Linked DNA regions of Homo sapiens. The protein of the gene in region 3 purifies or fractionates together with the protein of the main gene of each other region. This does not show direct contact. Each region holds a gene or a part of one and is shown on either strand. Other genes may lie near its edges. The genes, in order: PSMB7, XPR1 and KIF5B.

Evidence for each region.
Region 1: the proteins of KIF5B (region 3) and PSMB7 fractionate together in Homo sapiens (co-fractionation; 2 studies listed by BioGRID). This does not show direct contact.
Region 2: the proteins of KIF5B (region 3) and XPR1 purify together in Homo sapiens (affinity purification with mass spectrometry; 2 studies listed by BioGRID and IntAct, with this or other methods). This does not show direct contact.

Annotation. Positions count from the first base shown.
Region 1 is NC_000009.12:124,352,965-124,355,600, forward strand, and holds the end of PSMB7 (proteasome subunit beta type-7 precursor), read right to left. Parts: exon of another isoform or gene 746-2,636; coding exon 634-745; 3' UTR 501-633; downstream 1-500. UniProt on the Homo sapiens protein: Component of the 20S core proteasome complex involved in the proteolytic degradation of most intracellular proteins. This complex plays numerous essential roles within the cell by associating with different regulatory particles.
Region 2 is NC_000001.11:180,827,391-180,831,047, reverse strand, and holds part of XPR1 (solute carrier family 53 member 1), read right to left. Parts: intron 1-3,657. UniProt on the Homo sapiens protein: Inorganic ion transporter that mediates phosphate ion export across plasma membrane.
Region 3 is NC_000010.11:32,032,377-32,036,033, forward strand, and holds part of KIF5B (kinesin-1 heavy chain), read right to left. Parts: intron 3,619-3,657; coding exon 3,514-3,618; intron 3,292-3,513; coding exon 3,146-3,291; intron 2,463-3,145; coding exon 2,314-2,462; intron 1,663-2,313; coding exon 1,469-1,662; intron 399-1,468; coding exon 330-398; intron 1-329. UniProt on the Homo sapiens protein: Microtubule-dependent motor required for normal distribution of mitochondria and lysosomes. Can induce formation of neurite-like membrane protrusions in non-neuronal cells in a ZFYVE27-dependent manner.

The DNA.
Region 1 (2,636 bases), on a different chromosome or scaffold from region 3:
GTGAAATGATCATGTCCTACTTATTACAAAACCGTAACCCCAAAACATTCCTTTTATTTCTGTGAAACCGGCCAAAGTGAGGTCCACCCACCTTCACACAGCTCTGGCGGTGCACCTGCTCACCTTCTCTTGGTTCTCAGAACTGAGCTGGGCTTGAGAACACAGCTTTGGCTTTGCCATTTTTTTCCTACTTGGCTGCTGAGGTGGAGGGTGTGCTGCACTTATCACCCCATTTCAAAACCAAACCAAACCTGAGGCCACCCCAAACAAATTCAGCCAGCAAAAAGGGTAGGTATCGATGGTCACCTGAAGCCTCAAGGGAGTCCACTCTGACTTCTGACAGCAGACAGAACCTATCTGTCCTCAGGAGGGGCGCATGGCTCCTACGCTCTCCTCTGAGCCTAGGCCAGTGCTCAAGGAGGATCAGCACCCTGAAGGGCCAGGCCAATGGCCTTAGCAGCCCCCTACTGCCCCCAAAAACACCACACAGTGCCCAGACCTCAGCTGCCCAATTTGGTTTTTGTTTTTTATTGAGTTGAGTTTCATTCGGCAAACACTAGCCACATGAGTGTCTTACTGGGCCTCAATGCTCACCACCTTCCAGAACCGCGGCCAGCCACCCACTGATGCCATTCAGGAAGTGTCCATTGTTTGGACTGTTTCTTCCAGCACCTCAATCTCCAGAGGAGTGATTTTCTCAGTGAGGACTGCAGTAGTCCCTTTCTCACACCTGTACCGGCCAAGCCTAGTAAGAGAAAAACAAAAGCACAGAGTTAGGATTCTCCTCAAGGTGCCAGAGGGCAGAAGACAGTGAAAATAAATATTCAGGCAACGCAGTGAGCAGGCTGGACTGGAATCTTGGCTCTCCCGATCCCAGCTCTGTGATCTTGGGGGATTCAACTTCCTCAGTTCTCAAGTGCTGCAAAATGGGGGTGCCTGGGAGGCAAAGAGTGTCATTAGTGAACACGGCACCTGGCCCTTGGTGGACACGTGACTCTCCCCCCACCCCACCATCCCCACAAGTGCTGGGAAGCACTTGGTCCCTTGACATCAATCTTCAACCTCCCTACAATACTGTTCAGGGACAGCAGGAAGCAAATCCCATCATTACACAAGAGAAGGGCATGATTGCTCTTCCGTGCAGCAACAAGAATGACTTAACTGTTACCTTAGACACTGCACAAACATCTGGAAGCATAAACAGTGTAAAAAAAATGTGCAGCCAGACTCTGGGCTTGTCATTTCAGACCACTCTCAAGTCTCAAGAAAAGTTAACTGTCCCTTTCAGGGACACAGTGGGTCCCCACTAGGACACACCCAACACCTTCTTCCTGGAGTGAATCTGGCAGAGGTTTCTTTGAGCACCAGACTGTCTAGAAGATATGTATTTGGGCTGTTAATGCTCACAGTGGGTCAGGAATTAGGATACTGTCAAATGGCAGCACACAACCAACTGTTCCTCTGCTCTAGCCCCAGCTGGGGTAATATCTCTGTCAAACTTGCTGTCCTTCAGGAACTGCCAGAAGGCTGCTGGCTGTGCCATGGCCTTGTGCTCCCGGAACACCCATCCTCTCCCCTGGACACACGGGCTAAAAGAGGGAGCAGGAAGCAGAACAAGGAGGGCAACTTCCACAGTTCTGCATCCAGGTCAGGAGCACGGTCAGCCCAGAGCGGCCTGCCTTTATGCTGCCAAGCCTCCCCCGACCCCCACCCTCTTAAAGAATCCAAGCAAAAGTACCTTTGAACAATGTGTCCCCACCCCATCAGTTTGAGGATGCCCCTCATCCCTCACACGCTGGAACCTTGGTGGCAGCGTGCAGTCTTAGAGCCAAAGTCCCACGTGGCCTCTGTGTGCCTGACTCCTCTGAACCACCCCTCAGTGTCTCCGGGAGGCTTGGACACACAAGAGCCTCCTCACCACTGTGGTGACAGTGCCCGATTTTTGCGGCATGCATTCAGAGCTTCCGCCTTACGTGCCAGTGGACTGCAAGACCGTGTGCTGGAGGGCTGCGGGCAGACAGGCAGCAGGGACTTGCCAGGCAAGGCCCACTGGCGCATGGCACGGGATGCTTCCTCAGGCCTATCGCCCTGCCCGCACCCTAGCATCCACCCTGGGAAGGGCTCCCCTAACTCAGGCAGTGCCCCCATCTTCAGTCACTGGCAAAGAAGACAACAGAGTCCAGGGAGCTTGGACACTTGCTGCCCTTGGCCCCAGGACACCGATGGGGAGCAGGCTCCCTGCAGGTTACTGCACACCCACCACACGCCCAGCAGCTTCTGGGTCGCCTTGCTGATTCTTCCCAAGCAGCCGCAAGGCGGTTTTCTTTTGTTCTTGGGTGTTTAGAGCCTCTGTTTACAAGTGGAGCAGCCCATGTCCCAGGAAGTAGGATGTGCCACTGCTGCACTCCCTGTGGATGAGGACTCCTGCGCTCAGCACAGGTTCCCTAGGCAACCACTTCTCACTGGCCCAGACGTGGCTTTCAGAGTCCTCGCCCAGGACCCTGGCCAGCCTGAATGGTGTAACCATTCCCTACCCCATCACCGCTTCACCATGGACTTGCTCAAATCACGCATCTTGCAAAATAACCAGCGAAGCAGGCTACATGGAGTACTTGGCTCCTGCCTACCTGGAGCTC
Region 2 (3,657 bases), on a different chromosome or scaffold from region 3:
TTCCCACTGTTCTGAACACATGATAAATGTATTAAATGTATTGGGCAGTAACTCATGCAGTGTATTTTCCTCAAGGCTTTATGCAAGCATTAACTCATCTTCATAACAATTCCATGAGCTAGGAACTATTCATATCCCCATTTTACAGAAGACCGACACAGACTCTTCCTAACATATTCTGTGGAAGCCTGTTTATCACTACAAAGGGAAATCTTGGCATTGCAGAGAAGGGAAGTAGGTACCAATGCAATTACCAGAAATAGGCTCAAATTGTGCAGATTGTCTTGATAAGCGCTGTGTGAAGTGAAGATGGGATGAAGGAAGCCTTAATCCTCATCCTAAAGGACCCCTTTCTATCTTATACAGTAGGAAATGTGACTCCTGAAAGAAGAAATTCTGAGTAAGTAGAAGTTTTGAGAAAATGAATCTAATCTCTAGCTCTGATTATCTAGTTATATTCATTTCATAGACATATTCTACTTGGGAATCTGTAACTCTCTTCTCAGACTTGGCTGGATCTGTCTTCTGTTTCTCTAAATATTTATTTTTATTATGTCAGGGAGATAAATGGTCACATTATGACTCAATCCTGGATGTCAACTACCTATGACGGGTACTTTCTTGGAGCTTTGGAAGCTAGACCAGGTGTCTGTGGGACATCATACAGGCTTTGAGACATTATTTTCTGGTGCTGATATACTTTCATTCCATGGCTCAGTCTCTTAACCACTCTCATAATCTTTCCATGAGTCCAACAAACCAGAGAGACAATCTATACCATTTGCAACCATAAGCGCCCGATAAAGCAAACTTTTTGTGAGGAAGAGGGGGACTGTAGGATGGTAGTCATCTATGCACGAAGAAGCTCTGGCACCAGTTTCTGTAATATTTTAAGAAACTCTAGTGTGCAGAATGGACTTAAAGGATTCAAAGTGACAGAAATATAGAATAATTTAGGATATAACACCAAAAGATCAGGAAGTCTAAATCCATCTCTAATCATGAACTATTATGAAACTGGTAGCCTAGGACAAATTTCTTTATAACTGACATGAGACAGACTATCATTACTCTCATACTCTGCCAACCCCATCCTCAAAACCTGGCTAATTCAGAAAATCTCCATAAGAGCAGAAGAGGGAGATAATGCATTAAATAAGGAAAAAAGGGATGGTGGGATGGGACTGAAAAAGGATAGGACTGACATGAAAATTTAAAAAAAAAACTGGGAAGAAGGGAAAATTTACAAAAAGAGAAAATGAAAAAAGGAAGAAAGAAGGGAGTAGTAAATGTTATATAATACAACCAATGAAGGGAAGAATATAATTACAGTCATTCATGTATTTAACAAAGACTTATCAAGTATTTATTAAATGTCAGGCACTGCGGCTTACAGGCCTTAATGATCCACAGTCTAGTTGGGCAAATAAATACATAAAGGTATAATTATAGCACCATATTATAGAGATACACACAAAATACCCTGGAAATACAGAGAAAAGAAGAAGTCACTCTGTCAGAGGCCGGGTGAGAGGGAGAGCATAAACATCATACTCAACTCACTGACATTTACACACAGTCAAATTCATTCTAGATTTATCTGATATCGCCTTCTGGGAGAGAATTCTGTAACTCACTCCTCCTTCTCTTCTTAATCTGGATAAGGCCTTTCAACTTCTCCACTTCTACCCTGTGATTTTGATTAAAGTGACAATTCCTAGAGTAACAGTATTATGAAAGCCAGAGACAATTCTGGATAGCTGATATTTTACCACCTACACAAAAAAGCCACTAAATTATTACAAAGAACATGTTAACATCCTCTTTTAAGTTAATACTGATAAATAGCTAAGAAGATGAAGTTTTAATTTCTACTTTTCATGGAGTGCAGTGGTACAATTTCAGCTCATTGCAACCTCAACCTGCTGGACTCAAGCGATCCTCCTCCCTCAGCCTCCCAAGTAACTGGGGCTACAGATGCGTGCCACCATGCCCCACTAATTTTTCATTTTTTGTAGAGAAAGGGTTTTGCCACGTTGCCCAGGCTGGTCTCGAACTCCTGGGCTTAAGCGATCCTCCCACCTCCGCCTCTCAAAGTGCTAGGATTACAGGCATGAGCTACTGTGCCTGGCCTCAAATTTGATTTTTATATTCTACTAGTTTGATCCACTAGATCAAAGTTAAACATCTAACATAAGTGACTAATAGGGCTAAGTGTTAAATGTTAGTGTTTAAGAGTACAGATTATAAACGACTGCCTGGGTTCATAACTCATCTTCATCACTTCACTGGCTATGTGACCTTAGGCAAGTTAATTAACTTCTCTGAATGTAGGTTTCTTCATTTATAAAATAGGGATTAATAGCAGCTCCAACTTGTGGGTTATTTTTAAAATTAAAATACATAAAGTAGTTACTAAATGACAACACCTCTCTATTCTTATAATAGAAATGTGTAAAATTTTTACTATAGAACTAAAGAGACTGTTGGTAAAAACTGATGTCTAAATTATGTAACAAAGGACTATAATTTAAAATTTTTAATTAGCTTACTTTTAATATAGTGAGTTAAAATTTATATTTTTGTTTAGAAAATCTGAGGCACTGTTTATGCTACCTAATTAGATTTCTGATTGAGGTAAATATAGATTTAAGGAGAGAAAGTATAACCTAATGGATGTAAATAATCTATACTAATTTGACATACAATATTCATATCAAAATAAATCAATTTCTTATAAATTTTTTTAGCTTTGTTTTTAGGAGCATAGCATATATCAATTCCATAGATTCCAATATAAATATGGATATAAATGGCACCCAGTGCCTACCATTATGACCTATGTGCTTTTCTCACTAAAAATTAAAGAAAAGGATGGGTGTGGTGGCTCACACTTGTAATCCCAGCACTTTGGGAGGCAAGGCAGGCAGATGACTTGAGCCCAGGAATTCGAGACCAGCTGGGCAACATGGCAAAACCCCATCTCTACCAAAAATACAAAAAATTGGCCAGGCACGTTGGCACACACCTGTGGTCCTAACTACTGGAGAGGTTGAGGTGGGAGGATCACTTGAACCTGGGAGGTGGAGGTTGCAGTGAGCTGAGATCACGCCACTGCACTTCAGCCTGGGCAATAGAGCCAGACCCTGTCTCAAAAAAAAAAAAAATTAAAGAAAAAAAGAAAGAAATGTACTTTTACTTTAGGATGAAGCTTTTAAAAAGCGGTATCAGAAAAACATAACTAGAGTGAACACATTCTTGTTAATTCACTAGGAATCAGTCTAAGGGTAAGTTTTCCCAGTGAGATTTAAATTAAAATAAGTCAGCAGGTCAATTAATACTAAAATTATCTACAAATGATAACACTGTTCTGTTTATAACAGTTACTACAAAAACAACAAACCACAAATATAGAAGGAAATTATTCCTTCTATATTTCAGTGTATCTGATAGTACATTTTATTATTCTATTACTGCTTATACCATTGTCAACCTATTCCATCAACAAGTCCTCATTTATTAGCAAAAACACAGCAGATGCACAAATAAATATCTACTCAATGGGCAATCATTCTGCTAATAGGAGTAACTAGTCATGCATGAATCACAGCTTGCTATTTAAACAAAGGATACACTGGGGAAATGCCCACTTAGCAC
Region 3 (3,657 bases):
CACCACCCCCACAAAAAAATTTAAAGGACTGCTTTTCAATTATCCCCCTGCTCTGCTGGGTGAGAAGATAAAATGAGGATCCAAAGTAAGTGACAAGAAGAGAAATGTCAAGAACCAGGGTGAAAAAAAAGATGGCGGAAATGAACAACAGATTGTATCTGGGTAGATACGATGAATAAGTAAAAATTCACTTTATCCATGTGACATTCTTATTCCCACAAAGACAGTCATACCCAAAATTATACAACTATTAAAGACAAAGTCAATGGGATTCAGAAAACAAAACTATAAAGCTTTTCTGGAAGCAATGTAAAAGGTATTCAACTCACCTCCTCCTGATCCAACATTTGCGTCTTCAGTTTCTCTACCAGTTGACTTTGCTGGTTAATTTCTTCATCCTAGAATTGTGAAGTATCCGGTTAACCAGTAGCTAACAACCTGGTTCTAGTTGTTTCCCAATACAGGTTATAAGATTACTACTCCCCAGAAATATTTCAAAACCATTTCTCTAAATTCAACATTGCTTATTTTAATCTCTTTTAAGAAAATGGCAAAACAAAAGGAATTTCTTTCAATTATCAATACTTATAATGGTCATGTACTTCGAACCTGCCATCTCTGCTTAAAATATATTAAAAATATCAACTTAAGAAAATATTTTCTTCTAATCTCTTTACTACTCTTGTTCTTGCCTTCCATTCTATTACGTTCTTAGTTTGCTATTATTCATACTATTGACATTACTTCTATATGCAAAGCAGGAAGATATTATTTCCACTCTATTGTGTTTCCCTTAATCTCTCACATCATCTTTTATTGGAGTCTTCAGAGCCCTGATTCTAACAATTGGTATCATTGAGGCTCCCAATGACCCAATGCCAAATTTTCATTAGAACAGGGGTCCCCAAGCCCCCAGGCCACAAAGCAGTACTGGAAGCCTGTTAGGAACCAAGAAGCACAGCAGGAGGTGAGCAGCAAGCATTACCACTTGAGCTCCGCCTTCTGCCAGATCAGCAGCATTAGAATATCATTAAGAGCGCGAACTCTATTATCAGCTGTGCATGCAAGAGATCTAGGTTAGAGGATCCTTATGAGAATCTAATGCCTGATAATCCAAGGTGGAAGTTTCATCCCAAAACCATCTCCCCGACCTGATCCACGGAAAAACTGTCTTCCCTGAAACCAGTCCCTGGTGCCAAAAAGGTTGGGGACTGCTGCCTTATAAAGTTCTTTTAGCTTAAAAAGAGGGGGAAGAAAAGATACATGCTCATACAGTTTCCACACAGAAATTGAAATTATGACTTTTTATTTTGTTAATACAATAATTTTTACAAGATTAACAGAAATCAAGGAAGATGCATAAAGATCCTAAGTGCCCACAGCACTGAAATGAGAAAAGTTAGAAAATAAAAACACCCATGTCAATAGTATCCTAATATAAAGCAGACCTAAATCAAGCAATACCTACCTTGTCATCAAGCTGTTTGTATAATTTAGCAATTTCTTCTTCACACTTTCTTCTTTCAGCATCAGTAAAATTTCCTATAACTCCAATTGCGGTTGCTGGTTTATCATTGGTAAGAGTAATATCTTTATCCACTGTGAAAGCTTCCAAGTTGGCTTTCTCTTTGTCAAACTGTTCATCAATAGGCACCGTCTCCCCTAAAATAAGAAAATAAAGTGGTTAATAAAAAAACGACGTCTAAAGCTAATTTCAATTTCATTCCTTTAAAAATTTTTTTTTTTTTTTTTGAGACAGAGTCTCAATCTGTCACCCTGGCTGGAGTGCAGTGGTGCAATCTAGGCTCACTGCAACCTCTGCCTCCAGGGTTCAAGCAATTCTACTGCCTCAAGACTCCTGATTAGCTGGGATTACAGGCGCTCAGCACCATGCCAGGCTAATTTTGGTGTTTTCAGTAGAGATGGGGTTTCAACATGTTGGCCAGGCTGGTCTCTAACTCCTGACCTCAAGTGATCTGCCCACCTTGGCCTCCCAAAGTGCTAGGATTACAGGCATGAGCCAGTGCACCCAGCCTCGTTCTTTCAAACTTTTTCTTCTCTGTGTTATTTTCAAATAATCTGTCTTCAAGTTCAGATTCTTCTGCTTAATTAATTCTACTACTGATGGTCTCTTGCATTTTGCTCATTTTATTTTTCAGCTCCAGGATTTCTATTAATTTTTTTAAAAATTATTTCGATGTCTATTAAATTTCTTGATCTAGTCACTTACTGATTTTGCTGAACTATTTCTACGTTTCTATGCTCTAAATCTGTATTTAACAAACTGAAGATGACAAATTCTTAAGTTATTACCATTACGCCATCTGTTGAGCTCATTTTCAAGCCACTGAATAGTGTTCCGCAGGATCTTATTTTTTTCTTTTTCTTTTTCATACTTCTTTTTCCACTGTTCTGCAGTTAACTCCACATTGACACAAACTGTGTTCTTAATTGTTTTGGCCCTAAGAGATGTAATTGGAGGAAAAAAAGGATGAGACTGAAATTATTTTTAATTTTATCTATATGGAATATATGTATATATGGCTAAGAAACTTATGCTTGTCCAGTAATCTCTTAGACTAAATACTAAAAGCCGCAACATATGACGTTATTTACAACTCAACTAAATTTGAGTCTGCTCCAAAATCTGTGAATAGCTTTAAAAAAAAAAAAATCAACAAACCACTAAAAATAAAAGACAAAGGCCTATATTTTTCCAATTTGTTTGCAAGGCTGAATTAAGAAATTACTGTTGAAAGTCAAAGACGGAATCATCATTACTGATTTTCCTAATCATCTCATACAGATTATATTAACCTGTCATGCATGTCTACAGGCTTAACAGAGGATTATGTTTGCCAGGCTTTGACCTCATTATTTGATTCAAATGCTTATTTTCTTTAATACCAAATTACAGCTTGTCACACAAATTTGACTAAAATTACATCTGACTTTAATGTGTACTAAAACTTAAACCAAGCAGTCTAAAAATCAGACCCACCTTGTATTATCTGTCATCAATTCAAACTGAGTGTGTCTAGCACAAAACAGTATGTACAGGTTGGAATAACAGCTCACATTTTCCTACATTTTATAAACAAAAGGTCTATCTAAATTTAGGTTTTGTACTTTCTTAACAACAAACCTTTGGCCAAATAAGAGTGTAGATTTTGTTTCAGACTCATTGTATGATGATGGAGAGCAGCAAATTACAATAGTGGTTCTACAGTTGCCACCTAATGAATCTTGAAGGATTCTTGTCATTTTACTATCTCGATATGGAACATATGTCTGCATACAAAAACAAAGAAAGAAAACAAGACCAGTATAATAAAATGTTATTATAAAATAAACTCCCAAAAGACAACTAACTTACACATACTGATTCAAACACATTGAATCTCAATCTCTCTTTCTCTCTCTCTCTCTCATACACACCCAGGCACACATATACACCTATATTTAAATAATGCCCCATAAGGTAACAGGGAGATAGAAGACATGTATACTCACACTACCCTCAGCCAAAGCAGAAATAACATTTCCAAGAGCAGAAAGTGACTTGTTGATGTTTTTAGCTTCATCCAGCACAGCACCTTCAGCTCCAGTTTTACTAACCTATACATAAGATTTCAAAAGAATGAAACAAAATTACAA